4 separate regions of the Homo sapiens genome follow, and all the other regions are linked to region 2. Evidence: fine-mapped expression QTL. A gene starts in region 2. Each other region holds a variant in brackets. All regions are shown on one strand. Distances are from middle to middle. Region 1 overlaps NCOA7 (nuclear receptor coactivator 7). Region 2 holds the start of NCOA7 (nuclear receptor coactivator 7). Region 3 overlaps NCOA7 (nuclear receptor coactivator 7). Region 4 overlaps NCOA7 (nuclear receptor coactivator 7).

The links. PIP is the estimated chance that this variant, and not a neighbour inherited with it, causes the effect. A credible set is the group of variants that fine-mapping cannot tell apart.
Region 1: its variant is the best candidate, but not a certain one, in a credible set for the expression of NCOA7 in naive CD4 T cells (Schmiedel 2018, PIP 0.66).
Region 3: its variant is the best candidate, but not a certain one, in a credible set for the expression of NCOA7 in T cells (TOPMed, PIP 0.69).
Region 4: its variant is the best candidate, but not a certain one, in a credible set for the expression of NCOA7 in whole blood (TOPMed, PIP 0.66).

The regions. Positions count from the first base shown.
Region 1 is chr6:125,843,958-125,849,160 of GRCh38, forward strand. The region is part of intron 2 of NCOA7 (nuclear receptor coactivator 7); the gene reads left to right. Among named protein-coding and RNA genes, the nearest start is that of NCOA7-AS1, 28 kb to the left of the region's middle. The variant G/T (reference allele first, on the strand shown) is at 2,369.
Region 2 is chr6:125,788,475-125,793,677 of GRCh38, forward strand. It overlaps NCOA7 (nuclear receptor coactivator 7), which reads left to right and starts at 2,486. Exons shown (of 16, transcript NM_181782.5): 1 at 2,486-2,593. RefSeq lists silencers at 1,219-1,318, 1,909-2,748 and enhancers at 1,772-2,272, 2,273-2,773, 2,969-3,068.
Region 3 is chr6:125,830,021-125,835,223 of GRCh38, forward strand. All of the region lies in intron 2 of NCOA7 (nuclear receptor coactivator 7), which reads left to right. Among named protein-coding and RNA genes, the nearest start is that of NCOA7-AS1, 14 kb to the left of the region's middle. The variant T/C (reference allele first, on the strand shown) is at 2,087.
Region 4 is chr6:125,851,067-125,856,269 of GRCh38, forward strand. It overlaps NCOA7 (nuclear receptor coactivator 7), which reads left to right. Exons shown (of 16, transcript NM_181782.5): 3 at 3,954-4,174. Among named protein-coding and RNA genes, the nearest start is that of NCOA7-AS1, 35 kb to the left of the region's middle. The variant A/G (reference allele first, on the strand shown) is at 2,535.

The DNA.
Region 1 (5,203 bases), 55 kb after region 2:
TGGGGGATGCTTATAAGGTTTTCTGAAATGTCCCACCCCAAGGCTTCTCTGAGAGAGAATTTGGTTTTGGCCATTTCTGGCCCCCACACTTTGGTTACCGGGGTCTTCTAAGACCTGCTGACCCACCACTGTTTTAACAGTACAAGGAAATCCTAGAAAAGGAAAATTGAATTGTTGTGGTTTCCCCTGATTGGCATTCTGTTTATCTGTCTTTATTAGAATGTGGTTGTTCTTTGAGGCTAGGGGAAATGCTGTTGTGTGTATGTGTACCCATCTGAAGGATATATTGCTAGTTATTGAACACAAAGCCAAAGAATCTCTTTTCCTAACTGTATTGGTTCTTTGAAGCCGGAGTATTTTCGTTTTAACTGATGAATTTCAGTTTTAGCAGTGGGAAGAATCTCATTATCACGATTAGAAAAAAGGAAAAAAAGAATGCATGTCTCCATGGGTTACACTAGAATCAGGAACATCCACAGGTTTTTCCAGTGATTACTCTTAAATCTTTTGTTTTTATTTGGCCAGAATTCCAAGAGAAAATTTTCTTCAAGTGAGTTGTTGTTTTAACTGTTTTTCTCCCTTTGCCTTTAAGTTTGACTTAATTTGGCATATAATGGCTCATAAGTGGGGATTTTCAGTGGAAATGGAAAACTATGAAATGACAAAATGAAATGGAGTTCAAAGAGTGATGTTCTTCTAGAAATAATAAGTGGCTTTGTATTGATGACTAAATTCATAGAGTTAAATACAATTAATATTTATGTAGAGTGAGAAAAAGGACATGAACATATATTAATACCTGGCATTTGTCACATACCTTCTTTTTTGTGTTAAATATGTTGTGCTTTATATGTTCTCTCATTTACTTGGATTCTTTGAAATCCCCAAGTAAGAATAACAGCAGCAGCACAACAAATTAGTAACTTTTGTTTATTAAGCTCTTCCTGGAAACCAGGCACAGGTTGTGTTTAATAGTAAAGTAAGCTTTCTCTGTACCATTTGCTTTAATCACCATTAAAAACCCATTGGAGGCTATTATTTTTATGTCAAGGACAACAAACCTGAGGCTTAGATTTGGTAACTCGCCAAAGGATGTGCATCCAAAGTACAAGACGATTCAAACACAAACGTTTCTGCCCAAAGACTGAGCTCGTTCCATTGTCAGAGGTGGCAGAAGTCAGAATTAGACGACCAGGAAAAAACAGCCTAGGCCCTGAAGGTCAGAACAATGCAATGACAAGGCTGCAGCCAGAACAGCCAAGAAAAGAACCAAGAGAAGGTCCCTGGAGGGAGGCAGACCAGCTCTATCTGATTTAAAAAAAAAGTGATGTGGGATTGCAGTCCAGCAATTTACTAAGCTAGCTGGACTCAGGAGAAAGAATGAACCACTAAACAAGAGGTAGCAAAATGTTGCCATAGCTGCAGATATTTAATTTTGTTGTTGTTTGTTAACCTTATAATTACAAAAGTAATATATGCTTACCGTACAAAAGATTCAACACCACCACATTACATACCTATAAAGTAAAAGTTCTTGGCTGGGCACGGTGGCTCATGCCTGTAATCCCAGCATTTTGGGAGGCTGATGTGGGCAGATCACGAGCTCAGGAAGTAGAGACCATCCTGGTCAACATGGTGAAACCCCATCTCTACTAAAAATACAAAAATTAGCTGGGCATGGTGGTGCTGCATGCCTGCAATCCCAGCTACTCAGCAGGAGAATCGTGTGAACCAGGGAGTCGGAGGTTGCAGTGAGCCAAGATCGCGCCACTGCCCTCCAGCCTGGTGACAGAGCAAGACTCTGTCTCAAAAAAACAAAAAAGTGCAAGTTCTTCTCTCCCCACTCATTGACCAACCGTTTTCTCATACATCCACCGAACCTGTATATATCCATATCTATGTGTATATTTGGTCTTGAGGGATTTTGCTTTTTTTGTTGTTGTTTTTTCCACAAAAATGGAGTCATGCTGCAATACTGTTTTACATCTTTTTTTCATGAAATAATGCTATAGCTACATATTTTATATTAGTACTCTATTTCCCTACAGAGGCGATTTTAAGGAGAAAGTTTGTATGAAAGAAGACTTTCATGGGTCTGTTCTCATGGCTGGTCAATTTTGATATTTTCTAGTTTTCTTCCTGGAGCTATTAGCCCCAAATTATAGAGCAGTGTTTTGTTGTTGTTCTTGGTTTGGTTTTGGTTGTTTTTTTGTTTGTTTTTATTTTTGCTTTTAATAGCCTTTGTAGAGGAATGGGCTTCTGACTGTCTTGGCTTCTGGACTTTTCCAGGGCTAGAAATTCTGCAGTGGAAGGAAAATGTAATCAAATGTGAGACTTAGAAAAAACATAGGGAAGTGCAAGACCCTTG[G/T]GATGGTTTAGTTTGGATATAAAAAAGAAAAAAAAATTTTTTTTTTTTTTTTTTAATCAAAACAACTTTAACACATTTCCTACTCTTCTCCGCCAAGGGCAAACTATTAGAGCCAGACAGGACCTTGAAAATCATGTTAGCCTCTTGCTTTTGTTTACTTAGAAGTCCCAGGGGGTTTATCATATTTCCAATGCAGGTTGCAGGGCTGATTACAGAGAAAGCCAAGCCCAGAACCCAAATCTGTGTTCCAGTCTTTCTGTGAGTGCACAATCCATTGAAGCCCACTAAATTTTCAGGCCCCCACATAGTTTGTAGAATTTTCAGAGTCCACTGGATTTTATTTTAAAGTTGACGTTTACATATATGCCATAGCCACATTTAGAGGGGCTTCGGGGAGGCCCTGTGGCAGTTGGCTGTAACCTAGGCTTGTGAATTCCCGCTCCACAACTAAACTGTGCCCTGTGACCTTGGGAAATGGCCCTAGTTTTTCTCAGCCTTCCTTTTCTTATCTGTAAAATAGAGATAAAACTCCCTACCTCATTGGGCTTTTGTGAGGATAGGCTAATATTTGTGAAGTACATAGCATGGTGCCTGGTTCCTTAGTCAACTTAGTAGTTCCTGTTAGAAGAAAGCTGTTTAAAGCTTGTCATAAGTTTTTGAAAAGTAAAATTCAGTTTAAAAAATTTGACAATATTTGTGTGTTAGATTATTATAGTAGGAGAGAGATTTCAAAGACTACTTAAAATATTTTTAATATGTAATTGTACATGGTATAAAATTCAAAATGTACAAATGAGAACATAATAAAAAGTATTTGTGTGTGTGTGTATGTACCCTTGTACACATATTTTCTGCATATACTTGTTACATTTTAAATACTGTATCTTTAGCCTTCTCTCTAATCTCTTGCAAATAGGACTAACTATAGCTCTAGATCAATATTGTCTAGTACTTTCTGTGATGCTGGAAGTATTCTGTATTGTGTGTTGTCCAATAGAGTAACCACTAGGACATGAGTCTAGAAATGTATTTCTTACAAGTGAATAATTTTAAGTTCAATTTTAACTAAATGTAGTAACTATCGGTGACTGGCTGGTGGCTACCACATTGAGCAATGCCATACAAGGTATTTACGTCTTTTTCAAAAGTGTGCATTTTTCAAAAACACATGGATCCCAAATTTTAAAATTAAGAACAGAGTCATATATAACTGTGAATTTAATACTAATTAAAGCAGTCTGTAGTTCAGTACATTTTAAATTATGTGTGGCTAATATGTAGAAAGCTGAAACTGGATCCCTTCCTTACACCTTATACAAAAATTAATTCAAGGTGGATTAAAGACTTAAATGTCAGACCTAAAACCATAAAAACCCTAGAAGAAAACCTAGGCAATGCCATTCAGGACAGAGGCATGGGCAAGGACTTCATGTCTAAAACACCAAAAGCAATGGCAACAAAAGCCAAAATTGACAAATGGGATCTAATTAAACTAAAGAGCTTCTGCACAGCAAAAGAAACTATCATCAGAGTGAACAGGAAACCTACAGAATGGGAGAAAAATTTTGCAATCTACCCATCTGACAAAGGGCTAATATCCAGAATCTACAAAGAACTCAAACAAATTTACAAGAAAAAAACAACCCCATCAAAAAGTGGGCAAAGGAATGAACAGACACTTCTCAAAAGAAGACATTTATGCAGCCAACAGACACATGAAAAAATGCTCATCATCACTGGTCATCAGAGAAATGCAAATCAAAATCACAATGAGATACCATCTTACGCCAGTTATAATGGCGATCATTAAAAAGTCAGGAAACAACCAATGCTGGAGAGGATGTGGAGAAATAGGAATGCTTTTACACTGTTGGTGGGAGTGTAAATTAGTTCAACCATTGTGGAAGTCAGTGTGGCAATTCCTCAAGGATCTAGAACTAGAAATACCATTTGACCCAGCCATCCCATTACTGGGTATATACCCCAAGGACTATAAATCATGCTGCTATGAAGACACATGCACATGTATGTTTATTGCGGCACTATTCACAATAACAAAGACTTGGAACCAACCCAAATGTCCATCAATGATAGACTGGATTAAGAAAATATGGCACGTATACACCATGGAATACCATGCAGCCATAAAAAAGGATGAGTTCATATCCTTTACAGGGACATGAATGAAGCTGGAAACCATCATTCTCAGCAAACTATCACAAGGACAGAAAACCAAACACCGAATGTTCTCACTCATAGGTGGGAATTGAACGATGAGAACACTTGGATACAGGGTAGGGAACATCACACACTGGAGCCTGTCGGGGGGTGGTGGTTGGGGGATGGATAGCATTAGGAGAAATACCTAATGTAAATGACGAGTTGATGGGTGCAGCAAACCAACATGGCACATGTATACTTATGTAACAAACCTGCATGTTGTGCACAAGTACCCTAGGACTTAAAGTATAATAAAAAATAAATAAATAATGTGTGGCTAATAAACTTTATTTTAAAATCAAATACCTTAAATAAGAAGATGGGAGTTCATTTTGGAGACCATGCTGCTAATCAGAGAAAGCTGTGAAATGGCTGTTTGTAGAAGAGCACATCTCAACCAAATCAGAACATTTAAATCAACTTAAAGTGGAAAAATTCAGAAGATTAAGAAGCAGCATATCTCAGAACATGGGCTCATTTATCCATTAATTTATTCAAGAAATATTTACTGAGTACCTAATGTGTGCCATGTAAGAAAGGAACTTGCCCAAGACCCTGGCTTTGCTTACTGCCAGTGCCCCAAACTCATTTCCTTTTGTAAAAGAAAAAGCTTCA
Region 2 (5,203 bases):
GCATGCAGTCCTAGAGGAGTTCATAAAGATGGATTCTTACATTCCTTGCAATATCTTTGGAAGACCTTTTTTTTTTTTTTGAGATGGAGTTTCGCTCTGTCACCAGGCTGGAGTGCAGTGGTGCAATCTCCGCTCGCTGCAACCTCTGCATCCCGGTTTCTAGTGAATCTCCTGCCTCAGCCTCCCAAGTAGCTGGGACTACAGGACCCACCACACCCAGCTAATTTTTTTTTTTTTTTTTGTATTTTTAGTAGAGATGCGGTTTCACCATGTTGGCCAGGATGGTCTCGATCTCTTGACCTCGTGATCCGCCCGCCTCGGCCTCCCAAAGTGCTGGGATTACAAGCGTGAGCCACTGCGCCTGGCCAGAAGACTGACGTTTTATAATTGATGGTCACAACTTTAAAAATTCATACTCAGTTATAGGTTTTTGTCTAATAAAAACATCACTGCTTAATTTATTTACAAAACATGGAGTCCATAGAGAGAAAAACAACAGGGGCCTCTTGATAGTAAAAGGATGAGAAACAGGGAAAACTTGTAAGTCAATGGACACTTCCTTCAGAAACTACATTCAAAACTTAAAAATTTTGTTAAAGAGTAAGCAACTGCCAAATTCTCCTAAGTGACTTCAACGTGTTACTTATACATCAGATATGTACATACATATTCCTATAATCAAGTAATTCTAAGTTTGGGAAAATATCATAAATAATAATAGTTATCTTTTGAAAATAAAGTGGGGCTCTAGATCAACCAGTGTCAGGAAGCAGCCAAGTCACACCCCACTGGGTGCTTCCTGGACAAGCGCAGTGCAGCTCCCACAGGGCCTCACACCCAACCTTCAATTTGCTTAAAAGAACTATCTCAAAAAATCTTAGCTATTTAGTCACAATTTGTCCTTGCCAGGGAACATGTTTTTCTTTTGCCTGATTTTCAATAACCTTAGATTGCAAAATCATAAAAGCACTCATCAAAGAACTGTGAGAGCAGCTCAGCTTCCCTGGAGATCTCAAACCATGTTCCTTTGATACAATGCAATCAGCTCTTTATACTTTAGGAACCTAATTTTCCCTTACTAAATGCTAAACAATTTACAAATAACACAATGGCTACAGAAAAAAAAAATCCAACATCTTTACATTCAAATCCCAAAGATATAAACCTGACGTCTAAATTAATACGTGCTTAGTGCAAAACTGGGCAATTATTCCACATTTGCAAGACAGTATAACATGACCACCTGCTGCTGAAATGCCAAAGCCACCACTGTTAACGCTTTGCTCCGCCTTCCAGAGAGGTTATTACAGCTTAAGCTGCGTCAACAACCCAGAGGAGGCTGCTATCTAGTTTATCTGTGTGGAAGGCCTGTAACACACTGTTAACAGAGTAGTTGCAGGCCCTTCCTTGGGATATTTTTCTGCGTATAAGAGTGAATGAACTCCACGGCCAGATCCTCCTAGTCATGTTGCAGTGCTGGTCATGGGACCGCAGAGGGAACAGCACCCAACTGGGGATGGGGAGCTCACAGGCACAGGCCCCGCAGCTGATGCAAACCTTCCCCCTCCAAGGTTCTCTCGAGTCTCTGCCAAGAGTCGGCTGGAGGGCCCAACTGCTATGTTCTTATTGCTGTAATGACTGCAATTTGGCAGCATCCAGGATGGTGTACCGGGAACGGGAGGGGGAAGGAGATGGTGGGCCCCTCTGTTAAACGCAACGCCAGAAGGGACACAGGATGAATTTATTGTGGCCATCGGTCCTGAGCTGGAAGGAAAGTCAAAGGGCTTTAAAGCTGGGGAAAAGCTCTAACTCCTGCTCTGCTGTCAAAGCCTTACTTCCCACGAAGAGTAGGGGCCAGGCGGGCCAACTGTAAGGGGGAAGCGGCCCGGGGTGAGGTAAGAGGACCCTCCTAGGTGCCGCTGCCAGGCGGCGGTTCGCTGGGGCAGCAAGGCGCCCGCACTCGGGAGGCGCCACAAAGGGCCGAGGCCTGCGGAGGCCGCACGCGCAGCTCTCCGGGGCGGAGCCGCCGGGATCGCGGCAGCGGAGGCTGCAGCAGCCGCGGGTAGCCGGGGTGCCCAGCCTCCCAGCTCGGAGGTCGCGGGGGGCGGGGAGGATGCCGCAACTGCAGTCCGAGCGGCAGAGCCCGGCGCGAGCTCCCAGGCCCCCGCAACCGCTGTGAGGCGCAGCGCGCGCCACTGGCCGGGAGGAGCTAGAGGCGGGCGTCTGCACAGCGTCGCGCCACCCGTGACTGCCCGCCTTCAGCCGGGCCCGGGACCCCGTAGCGGCCCATGCCCTGACGGGGGGCGCAGCTGCGGGGCTGGCGAGGCGTCGCGCGTGGGAAGAGGCCTAAGACACCCCGACTGCGGCGGCTGCGCACACCCGATCCGGACGCGGGGCCCCGCGGGCGCGCGCCTCGGAGCTCCCGCCTCCTCCTCTTGCTCCTCCTCGGCGTACGGTCCTCCCCTGACCCCTCCTTCCACCCGCCGAGAGGATGCGCTCCCCGGCGCCCAGCAGCAGAGGCCACCGCTCCCAGAAATGCATGCGACCGATCCCCTTCTCCCGGACCCCAGGAGCCGGCGCCCCCGCCCTGTAGGTAGGTGGTGAGGCGGGGCCCAGCCCTCGCCGCCGCCCGCCGCTGATGCTGCCGCCGAGAGGCCGCGAGCAGGGTCCAGGACCGGCCAAACTTGCCTCCCGCCGGGGGCTCGGTGGAGCGCTCGGAGGTGTGCTAATGGCGCTGGGCGTAGCCCCCTGTGAACCTGAAAACCTCTGCTTGAGCTCGGGAGGCCGAGCGGGGGCGAAGGAGAGATTGACCCTTCCCCGCCCACCCCTTGGGGGGCTCGTGGGGGTGCGCGCCAGTACGAGAGTGGGGAGGACAGGTTGGCATGGGGCTTATTTGGGGAGAAGACCGTTGGATTTTCAGCAGCTCAGGTGGAAATATGTCACTGTGTTTTTCCGGCTGGATTAGCAGATGCGTTCTTCCCATCTTTCTAGCCAAAACATGTAGACAGGCAAAGGGTTATTAGTGGCATGTAGAAGTCGCTGTGGATTTTTGTGTATTTCAGAGCTAGCTAGTTGGTATATAAAATCGATGGGGCAAACCCTTACCGTCAACACGTTAGGGCCAATTTAGAGAAGGTCCTTCTAGAAGTCAGATTATTCTGGAGATCGATGAGGCTGGGATATTGTTGTGCTGAGTATTTAGGAGCCTCTGCTTACGTGAAGGGATGTGTTTTAAGAGTGGCAACTTTGATACAGGTGTCGGGAGTTGAGATTCTGCTGGAAAGATGTACCGGGTCAGCCAGCAGAGGCAGCCTTGTGCCCAGCCTAACTTCCAACTCGATGTTATGCTCTGTATTTCTCAGAAACTGGTTATGTATTAATGCTTTTTTTCTCCTCTAGGTGTAAAGTTTATACATCAGAGCTTTTGGCAAGATTCCCTCTTCCCAGACTATCATTTTTTATTTTATATTCAGCAATAAGGCTTAAAGTTTTGAAAAATGCATCACTGTAAGCTCCAATTTTATAGTCACTTAGGTATAGAGATTTGGAGAAGTGACTCAGTATAAGCTCAAATAGGACAGAATCTTGAATCTGTTTTTTTTTAAATCCTGTAATCTTCTGCATCTTATGCAGAATAAGTACCCATTAGTTATTTGTTGAATGAATGAACTGTGTTTCAAGCTTTCATCTAAAAACCACAATTTAGAATCACAGAATTGTTCTGTAGCCGGTGAAATTTAATTGAATTTCAAAAATTGCCTCTTTGTATAAATAGGCAAACTCAGTTATTTTAACATTTATATTTCAATTCTGACATCTTTAGGACCATATGCTATCTTTCTGTAATATGTCATCAAGGTTATGAGGTAATTCTCCCCAACTCTTAAGTTCATTTCATGTCTAAGCTTGCAAAATTTCCAGTCTCACTGGTAATCATGCCAACTTCAACTGTGCTCTCAAACACAATTTAAAAAGTAAAAGTCGTGTTTTAAAGAAAATTGTAAGTTACGCCAGAGGAAACAATGATTTGGTTAATAAGTGATGTATTCACTTATTTTAGAGTTGAGTTTTTCAGGTTTGATCTAATTATCATGTCTTTTATCACAGGCAAAAGTAGAAATAAAACATGTAGAAGTGTCTGTGATTCTTAAATGATTCAAAATGTGTGATATAGATACACAATTTAAACTGTTTTCTCCTCGGTATAGAAACACATCAGTTTCCAAATTTGACAGCCAGGGGATTGTGAAATGAGGGTTTGCAAGATACAGTGTCTTCCTGCTTTAAAATGTTATATCATTTTGAAAAAAAAAAAGAAAAACAAGGTTAACTGCATCAAACTTTATTTGCTTTATTTTTACACTATGACATTTTCTGTTTTGATTTCATCTTTTTTCCATCACATGAATTTCATGAGTCAGTGTGAACTTCTTTCAGTCTCTGCTTAACAATATTATCTGGGCATGCTCCCAGGTTTTCTTTCTGACATTTTAATGCATCTTTACCATCTTCACTTCATATTACTCAAATGACTTATTTTTACACAATATGGTAGGCCATACTTTATTACTATTGCTTCTCCAACCTACTTATTTTCTTCCTAGATGGATAAGGAAATAAAACTTTCCTATAAAAGTTAATAAGACTGCAGGAACCAACAGTGGGAGGGAACTTATGAAAAAAATTAATTTGTTATGATTTATTAAAACAAAGCCAAAATTCCCTCCTGTAATAAAGATAATTACATTTTACACTTCTTAAATTTGTAACCCAGGGTATTGAGCAATTAATTTACCTGGCTCTTCCTTGCACACTTTAAGCTTTTCAAAAAAGCCCTCCCCTTTGGTTACAGTAAGCTCTCTTTACCTTGTTACTTATAAGCACTTATTTGTTCATTTTACAAGTAGGAGTTGAGCCTTTAACTGCTCAGTTTAACTGCTATTACTTTGGCTTTGGAATCACAGTCAAATAAAAGCTCTAATCTCAGATTTGAAGAGGTATTTTTCTCTTCTGTGTGTCCTACAACCAAATGCGCAGTGCCTCTGGGATTGGTTGACTCACTTTTGGGTCCTACCTCCTGATCCCCCAGCACTCCGCCCCCACAAGCACCACCAGAATGCAATCCAAGACCTGGATTTCCTCTCTTTATCTTCCTAAAGGCTGTATTTTAGAAACCTCTATTCCTTTCTTGCTAAATGCCATT
Region 3 (5,203 bases), 42 kb after region 2:
GTTTTCAGCCTGGACTTGAACTTTTCGAGCTATAACAATGTCTCAAGGACCCTCAAGGCTGCTTATTTCTTGCTTGAAAAACTCTTGTTAGAGGGAAGTTGTTTTTAAATTTTTGGTTAAATTTTATTTCCTTTCAGCTTATTCTATTTATTCCTTGTTACTTCGAATCCATACAGAATAAATCAAATCCATCTTTCATATATTATCATTGCATGTGTTTAAAGACAACATCATGAACCTTTTCCAGGATGAGTATCGTACCTTTCCATCCCTGAACCTTTTCCAGGATGAGTATCATAAGTTTCTAAATCTCTCCACCTAAGATGGAGTTTTCAGATTCTTTGCCATCTTGATATGACCTGATTAATGCAAATATAAGAATATTAGGCCAGGCAAGGTGGCTTACACCTGTAATCCCAGCACTTTGGAAGGCTGAGGTGGAAGGATTGTTTGAGGCCAGAAGCTCAAGACCAGCCTGGGCAACATAGTGAGACCTTGTGTCTACAAAAAATTTTTTTAAATTACCAGGCATGGTGGTGAGTGCCTGTAGTCCCAGTTACTGGCAGGGGCCTAGGGGTTGGGGTACTGAGGTGGGAGGATTGCTTGAGCCTGAGAAGTCAAGGCTGCAGTGAGCTTTAATCATGGCACTGCACTCCAGATTGGGTGACAAAGTGAGGCCCTGTGTCTCTCTCTATATATTTTATATATATATATATATGTGTGTGTGTGTGTGTGTGTGTATGTGTGTGTGTGTGTGTGTGTATAGATATATATACTTATCCTTTACTTTTATTAATAAACACCACATTTCATTATTTTGTTGACAGAAATTATGCTCATAGTGAGGGGGGAAAAGTGTTTTTCCATCTGAATTGGAATTTTGTCTTGTTTGTTTTCTGTCTATTATTCTATTTTCCAGGAATTTTGAAGCCTGATTTTTAACATTGAACATATTTTCTGCCCTCCCTAGATTGCGTCAGATATGCAACTTGAATAGCATGTGTTATGTTCTTATCCAAGTAGTTGATTAAAAGGCTGAATTGGAAAGCTTTATGCATTATGGCATATTAGTACTGTCAGTACATGAAATAGTTATCGTTAAGTATTTCAGTTTGCTATAAATCAGTTTCCTCTAAGTTAACCGAATTCTCTAGTCCAGCTGTTTCCATCTTACCTTAAGAAAAGTAGTGACATTTTCAGGGGCCTTAGTGAAATCTTTCTATACTACCTCCTGTGACTGGCCCATCAATATGCCAAATCTAGCCCAACCAAAAAAGATAATTATGTTCATTTAGAGTCACTCATTTTAGTGTACCTATAGTGGTTCCTAGAAGTCAATAATTTATCTTCAGGTAATCACAAATGATTAATGAGCTATCAGTTTATTTTTCTGACAGTTGATATCAAGCTACTCGGTGTGTCATTTCCAAATTTTTTATTTCTTTTGAAAACCAGGTTTGTTTGTTTTTTTTTTTTCCTACTTCCAATTTTCTTTCTCAGTGATTCTTTTGAGATTACTGGTAATGGTACTGCAACTCAGAGGGTTGCTTTGACAGGACTAGAGACTTCATCCTGGATTTCACTTTCTTCTTAGCCATGGATATGTCATCCTTTTTAATTTTTTGCCTATTCTCTTTGCTAAAGCTAAAAATAGGATTGGACTAGACCTGTTTTCTCTCTCTTACAGCTTAACTTCACCCAGTGGGCCTATTGCTTCTTGCCTCTTCAGCCTCTCAACATCCCTATAATTTTCTCGTTAGTTTTCCTTTGCATTGTTTACAAACTTCTGCATATGCTGAGCTTTCACTTTCTATGCCTGTTCCTATAGACTTCTGTCATTTGCTTTTTGCTTTCGTTTGAGCTCTATTATGTGCCTTCTCGCCATCCCCTATATGCCTGCCCATTAGAAACTTGAGTTTATTGGGCCATATTTGTTTACTGAGATGCTTTCAGCATTGGTTCTTCCACAGACTCATTTGTGATGGAGTTGACAGAATTTGTTTCGGAAGAACATATTACAGACATGAGCCGCCACACTGGGCTTGTTTGCGTCAATTCTTTCACAGTGTTATCTGCTCTATACTTC[T/C]TCCGTATCTCCCTTTTGATTGACAGTTAAAATCTTCACCTAAAAATAAAAAAAAATAATTAATCCAAATCTACAAAATTTCTACCAATAATTTCAAAGGCACTAGGGAATCATTTCAGGTTTCTTCCATGACAGTCAATCTCTTGATCATGTGTCTGGACAATTTCCTCTTGAGTGATGGCTATAATAATTTTTAGGAGGCTCTCTGCCACTTTGACATTTTGTGCGCTAAACCTGCCTAACCCTACCCAGGTCAAATTTTGGTTGCTTTTATCCCCCTGCTAGGGAGCCCCCAAATACTTTACTCTCTTTTAACTACTTAAGGGATGAACAAAACAAGCAGTAAATTATTTTATTATTTGCCAGGCAAGAGGACACACACATGTTCATTGGTAATGCTACTTAGAGATTGAAGTTTGTACCCTGGATAGGGGAAATGAAGTTTGCAGCCTGGATAGAGGAAATGAGTCCATAAGGCCACAAATGATTGGTTTTAACTAGTCCCATTTGTCATGGGGCAGTGAAGAGCCTTCACTTAGGGCCCTTAAGGGCCTAGCATACCAAGGATGCTCAAAGATCACAGTTTTATATCAGCTTTGGCTGGTGGGCTGTTCAGAATTCACAGCCAGTTACAGTGAAACTCAGCACCAAGCTTAGCTCCTGGGGAAGTGCTGCTACAAAGTGGATGTTCTTTGGCAGGACACAGGAGGAACCGCTGGATCTCTCAGCCACCTTGTTATTTTCTGCAGCCTCGGCTGCTCCAGATTTCAGGTCTGTGGGACATCGCCACACTGTTGTGTCACAGCATGGCATGGTCTCCAGACCTCCTTTCTCCCCTGCCATGTGTTCTGCCCACCAAATCGTTTCAGTTTCTCTCTGGAACTTCAGAATAGTTTTCTTTCTTGCATATTATGTAAGTTATTTTTCAACTTCCAGAAATCATGCTTAATGAAACATATCTTCAAAATAAAACTTCTGCTCCAGTTTGTGTTGCCGCAGAGTGAAACTATTGGCACTAGAAATTTGTGAATTTGAAGTCATAAATTGTAAGTGATTTGCATAGTTTAACCTCATTAAAGAGAAAATGAGAAATTAAGAAAAAAGTGGAAACCAGGACAGATAAATTTGCTTATTATGAAGATCAAACATAAAACAGTTGAGTAGGCAGACAGCTAAAACTCTTGGAAATAATGGGGCTGGCCGGGCTTGGTGGCTCACACCTGTAATCCCAGGACTATGGGAGGCTGAGGTAGGTGCATTACTTGAAGTCAGGAGTTTGAGACCAGCCTGGCCTCATGGTGAAACCCTGTCTGTACTAAAAATACAAAAATTAGCGAGGTGTGACAGGCTCCTGTAATCCCAGCTACTCGGGAAGCTGAGGCAGGAGAATTGGGAGGCAGAAGTTGCAGTGAGCTGAGATCACACCACTGCACTCCAGTCTAGGCAACAGAGCAAGATTCTGTCAAAAGAAAAGGAAAGGAAAGGGAGGGGGGGAGGGGGAGGGACAGGGGGAGGGAATAAATGAGGCTGATGTCTTGTTTCAATCAGGGTGGTGGCAAGGGGTGCTTTGGGGGCTGTGGCTTCTCTCTCCATTCACCTGTGCCATTGCCATCAGCACGTTCCACAGGCCACCCCAAATAAACATGCAGTTCTAATAAAAGGAGTCAGGTTGCTTAGCTGGTGCAGCTTTAAGACATATCCCTGACCTCCTCTCACTCCCCCAAAACTCAGTTTTGCCCCTAACTTCTAACTGCAGAGAAATTATAAAGTTAACACTAGCTTAAGTAAGGCCCTTCTTCCCTTTGTCTCTTCCTTCCTTTTTGTTGATTCTACAGTGTTGTTTCCTCTGAGAAATAATAATAGAATTTAAAAAAATTGTCATGTTAAACTGCAAAGCTTTTATTATTTTTTTAAAATCGTAATGCTTGCAAAAACATTTGGTCGGTAGGATTATTAAGACGTGACAAAATGATCTTTAAAAATAAGATGTACTTTCATACACAGTGGAAGAGTATTAACAGAAATATGTGGGCAGCTTATTTTTGTTTTTGTTTTAATAAAAACAAATATTTGGTTTTAACCATAAAAAGTTCTCATGATACAATTATTTGTGTGTCTGAAATCATCACTAGAGAAAACTAAAGTGACTTTAAAATGTAAATAATACTTATTAAATACATGTGAACATAGTATAATTAATCCCTTGTAGGTAAAAGAAAATTCTTTAAAGTTTGATTAAAAAAACGGAAGATTTTTGTTCATCAGATAATCCCCATATGATCTAGATTCATTTATTTACTTAGTTGTTTATTGTTATAGACATTTAGGGATGGAAAATATCTTAAAAACAACCTAAGCTAACTTCTTGGTAGAGGTGAGCTACTGAGGTCTTAAGAGGTTGTTATTTAACCAGGGTCACCAGACTCTCAGCTGCTGCAAGCCACAGACAGAGGTTTTCTCTTAGCAGAGTTGTGCTTTCATCTCACTCTACTTTAGCAGACCAATGATATCTCAAGCTTGCGTGTTTCTTTTAAGACCTCACTGAAGTCTTGCTGACCTAAAAGGAAGAAGCTGAGGCAAAATTAATGCAGGTAGAGTTGATTTGAGCCAAACTTGAGGATTGTAGCCCAGGAGCATAGATTGAAGATGCCCTGAATATACACTCTGATTAGCAGCAGTTACAAGTTGATTTTTAAAGGCAAAAAAGAGATAGGAAGTGGGCTGATACAAAGTGATGTGCCAGGAATTCTTGTTGGCTTACAGAAATAGCATTGATTAGTGATTGGCTATGCATTAAGTTATAGTGTCTGGTGTGGCATTATTAGATTAATTTATAGCTGCTTGTGGCAATAGCAGGCTGGTTCTGGAGATGAATACATAGCTCCAGCGGGAAGTAAGATGTGATTGCAGTCTCATTTTAGTGTCTCTGCAGCCTGATAATTTAAAAGGATGTATATTTCCCAGATAAAAGTTCTTTTCTTTTCTCAGGCTAAAAGAGGTAGAACACTTATTCCAGAATCTTTAAAATTTCCTGAGTTCCCCAATAATGCAGCCTTGATAGGCACACAATCTAATCTTAAGATACAACAGCTATCCATGTTATTTTCATGTGATAAA
Region 4 (5,203 bases), 63 kb after region 2:
TGAGTCTCCAATTGTTTGGTGATTTTTGGTTATTTTTTTATTATTAATTATATGATTATTTCAATAGCTTTGGTGGTACAAGTGGTTTTTGGTTATGTGGATGAATCATATAGTGGTGGAGTCTGAAATGTTAGTGCACCTGTCAACTGAGTAATGTACATTGTACCCAATATGTAGTTTTTTATCCCTCAGCCACATCCCACCCTCCTCTGGTCCATTATCATACTATATGTTTTTGCATCCTCATAGCTTAGCTCCCACTTATAAGCGAGAACATGTGATATTTGATTTTTCATTCCTAAGTTACTTCACCTAGAATACTTACCTCCATTTCCATCCAAGTTGCTGCAGAAGACATTATTTTGTTCTTTTCTGTGGCTGAGTAGTAGTCCATGGTGTATATAGACCACATTTTCTTTATCCACTCATCAGTTGATGGGCACTTTGGTTTATTCCATTTCTTTGCAATTGTGAATTGTGCTGCAATAAACTTACACATGCAGGTATTGTTTTCGTATAATGACTGTTTTTCCTTTGGGTAGATACCCAGTAATGCAATTGCTGGATCGAATGGTAGATATACTTTTAATTTCTTCGAGAAATTGCCATACTGCAAATGTTGTACTAATTTATATTCCCACCAGCAATGTATAAGTGTTCCCTTTTCACCACATCCACACCAACATCTATTGTTTTTTGACTTTTTAATAACAGCCATTCTGGCTAGAATAAGGTGGTATTTCATTGTGGTTTTTATTTGTATCTCCCCGATGATTCGTGATATAGAGCATTTTAAAAAATAAGTTTGTTGGCCATTGTATATCTTTTTTTTTTTCGAGAAATATCTATTCATGTCATTTGCCCACATTTTAATGGGATTATTTGCTATTGTCTTGCTGACTGAATACCTTATAGATTCTAGATATTAGTCCTTTGTCAGATGCATAGTTTGTAAATATTTTCTCCCATTCTGTCTGTTTACTCTCATGATTTCTTTTTCTTTTTGTTGTTGTTGTGCAGAAGCTTTTTAGTTTAATTAGGTCCCATTTATTTTTGTTTTTATTGCATTTGCTTTTGGGGTCTTAGTCATAAATTCTTTGCTTAGGCCAATGTCCGGAAGAGTTTTTTTGTTTGTTTGTTTCTTTCTGAGAAAGAGTCTTTCTCTGTCGCCCAGGCTGGAGTTCAGTGGCACAATCTCAGCTCACTACAACCTCCGCCACCTGGGTTCAAGCGATTCTCCTGCCTCAGCCTCCTGAGTAGCTGGGACTACAGGCACGTGCCACCATGTCTGGCTAATTTTTGTATCTTTAGTAGAGATGGGGTTTCACCATGTTGATCAGGCTGGTCTCGAACTCTAGACCTTGTGATCTGCCTGCTTAGGCCTCCCAAAGTGCTGGGATTATAGGGTGAGCCACCGCGCCCAGCCCAGAAGAATTTTTACTAGGTTTTCTTCTAGAGTTTTTGTGGTATCAGGTCTTAGAGTTAAGTCTTTAATCCATCTTGAGTTGATTTTTATGTATGGTGAGAGATAAGGGATGCAGTTTCATTGTTTTGCATATAGCTATTCAGTTTTTCCAGCACCCTTTATTGAATAGAGTTTCCTTTCCCCAGTTTATGTTTTTGTATGCTCTGTCGAAGATCAGTTGGTTGTGAGTATTTGGCTTTATTTCTGGGTTCTTTATTCTGTTCCATTGCAATGTCTATACATTTACATTTATACAGGTACCATGCTGTTTTGGTAACTATAGCTTTGTAGTATAATTTGAAGTTGGGTAATGTGATGTCGGGTAATGTGATGCCTTCAGATTTATTCTTTTTGCTTAGGATTTCTTTGGCTATTTGGGCTCTTTTTTGGTTCCATATGAGTTTTAAGATTGTTTTTTCTAATTCTGTGAAAAATGATGTTGGTATTTTGATAGGAATTGCATTGAATCTGTCGATTGCTTTGGGCAGTATGGTCATTTTCACAATATTGATTCTTCCAGTCCATGAGCATGGGGTGTATTTTTATTTGTTCATGTCATCTACAATTCCTTTCAGCAGTGTTTTGTAAGTTTCCTTATAGAGATATTTTGAGTTCTTTTTTTTGTTCTCTTTCTTTTTTCTCTGCCTGTCCTTGAGTTCTTGATTTGATTGTCAGCTTGGTCATTGTTGCTGTATAGCAGTGCTACTGATCTGTGTACATCGATTTTGTATCCTGAGACTTTACTGAATTTATCAAATCTAGGAATCTTATGAAGGAGTCTTCAGGGTTTCTAGGTATTTGATTGTATAATTGGCAAACAGAGATAGTTTGACTTCCTCTTTTTTTATTTTGGATGCTCTTAATTTCTTTCCCTTTCCTGATTGCTCTGGCTAGGACTTCCAGTTTTGGTCTTTTAAACAAACATTAAAAGATAGCTAAACTAAGAGATGGGGAGTATATTCATCTATGACTTTTCCTCTGCTGCTCTGTCTCTTATGCCATATACTAATTTGTTAGCCAATGAATATCTAAGAACCTGGCTGCTCAGTGTTCAGTAAATAATAGCCTA[A/G]TTAAAATACCTTGTTGGAATATGGGACCTTTATCTCCAAAGCTGAATGTCTCATTTTTCTTACCATGCTTAGTTGTCATGTCTTTATGATTGTATTAGGGGATATTTTACTATTTCTGTTTCTGTTTGTGTTATATGTTGACATGTATTATGTCAATTAAGCCTAATAAAAGATCCTGTTAGAGACCTAAGGAAGTACAGTTATCACCATTTAAGATATAAGAAAACTAAGGTTCAAGGCGTGAAATTCCTAGCCTGAGGTCAGAGTTCTCTTAAGTGTTGTAGCCTCAGGGAGGGACCTCTCTAGCCTGCCAAATTGATTTGTTTGACATCACAGAACAATGCAGTGAAATATCAAATTTCAGTCCCTGTGTATCCTACAGTTATCTCATTTTTCTACCCAAACAGGTCCTTATCCATTGCCCAACATCAAATTGGACATATGCTCAAAAGGGTGAAGGAAATAGAAATGTATGAGAGAAATCTAACTGTGCCTAGATACTTTCTATCTAGGCACAGGGAAAAGGGACATAATTTTAAAATACATATTTATATATGAGTAGAGTACAACATATACTAGAGGCCAAGGCCCTTGTTCTCAAAGCACTTAGATTCTGATAAGGCAAAAACATTCTCGACTATCAAGTACAGAGTGACATATCAATTAATTACAGAGTGATGTGTCCACTGAAAATATTTTGAGGTATTGGCTTTCAGTGAATTATGCTAACTTTATCTCTTACACATATTTGGCTCAGGAGTAAAGAATTTGTAACATCAAATATGTTAACTAATAATCAAATAATCAGTCAGCTATCAGTAATCATAATGAAAATCATGTATTGTCATTATGGCATTTTCTATTTTAGGAAATGCAGCTCTTTCTTCACTACTATTGCCATATGTTTAAAGGAAAAGAATTACTCCTATGTGACCCAGTTCACACCTTGCCAAATCCTTTTACTCAGTATGTGAGCCAATTACAAAGGACTTGTTTTTACAAATGTGCTTGCCCATCAGTCAAAAGTACCACTGAAACCAGAAACATTTTCTTAAAATGTAATCTTCCAAACATGGCATTCTAGTAGCATAACCATATATTGTGATTTTTAAAAATACTCAACATTTCTTAGCCTATGGAAGAATCTCATTTTTCCTCAGGCCTATGGCAGTTCTCAATAATTTTATGAGATATAGTATTGACTATATCAAGTTGAAGAAAGGCCACAGATCTCCATGTAAGAATTTGTAAGTTATTGGAAAAGAAAAAAGAACAATACATGTAATGAACCATATTATAAGGAAAGTGTTTTCTGTATCAGTTCATTAGTTTTCAAAGTCCAGCAGCGTGAAATTAATATGATTTCTACCAGCAAATCATCTCTCCAATGTTTTTTCTTTTTTTTCCCTCTTTCCTAGACTGAAAAAGAAAAAACAAGCCAAACAAAATGCAGAGACAGCCTCAGCTGTAGCTACAAGGACTCATACTGGGAAGGAAGATAATAATACAGTAGTTTTAGAGCCAGACAAGTGCAACATTGCTGTGGAAGAGGAATATATGACTGATGAGAAAAAAAAGAGAAAAAGTAATCAGTTAAAGGAGATCAGGCGTACAGAACTAAAGAGATATTATAGTATTGGTGAGTATTCATGGCGTTACTGCAGTATTTTCATTTAAAAAATCTATAAGAATTTTTAAAAGACTATCATTTGTGATTGATCATAATAATGGTAACAGTTTATGGAGCAGCTGCTATGTGCCCCTGGCCCTTGCTTTACATACATAATCTTGTGTAAGGGGATCACACTAAAATAATGTCTCATTTAAATTTGTGTTCCCAGCATTTAGCACAGTGCCCAGAATGTATTGTGTACTACTAAACGTTTATCTAATGAAGAGTCACTTTCTCTTTATGAGAAATATTTTTCTTAATGTATGTAGACATATTCATAAATATGCTGATAGAAATGCCTGTACTTTTTGGCATTTGCTAGACAGTAGAAAATGGAGGAGACTTGGCCTAGCAAGTTTTTGTTTTTGTTTTGTTAAAAAAACAAAAACAAAAACAAACAAAAAAAAACACCTAGGAGTCTTTTTTTTGAGACAGAGTCTTGCTCTGTCCCCTAGGCTGGTGTGCAATGGCATGATCTCGGCTCACTGCAACCTCTGCCTCCCAGGTTCAAGCAATTCTCCTGCCCCAGCCTCCCAAGTAGCTGGGATTACAGGTGCCCACCACCATGCCCGGCTAATTTGTTGTACTTTTAGTAGAGACGGGGTTTCACCATGTTGAGCAGGCTGGTCTTGAATTCCTGACCTCAGACACTTGAGAATCTTAAAGGGAATCTTGAAATGAGTCCATAGTGTTATATAGTTTCTCAGAATAACCCGTGCATCTGAAACTACATTCGCAGAAGTGGCGTATCTAGCTTGACCTGAATCACCCATCTCACACCTACTGTTCTATCACATGCATACATGGATTTTGTTTCAAAGAGAATGCAAATAAATGAAATAAATAAGGGTACCAGGAATCAGAACTTGGCGTGGCATACAGGTTATGGCATACTTGAGATTGCTAGGAAAGGGAGAGAAAACTGAGAGCAGTGTCTGAGAACATACTGCAAATACGGTAAATGAAATGTGGTCTCATAGCAGAGAAATGACACTC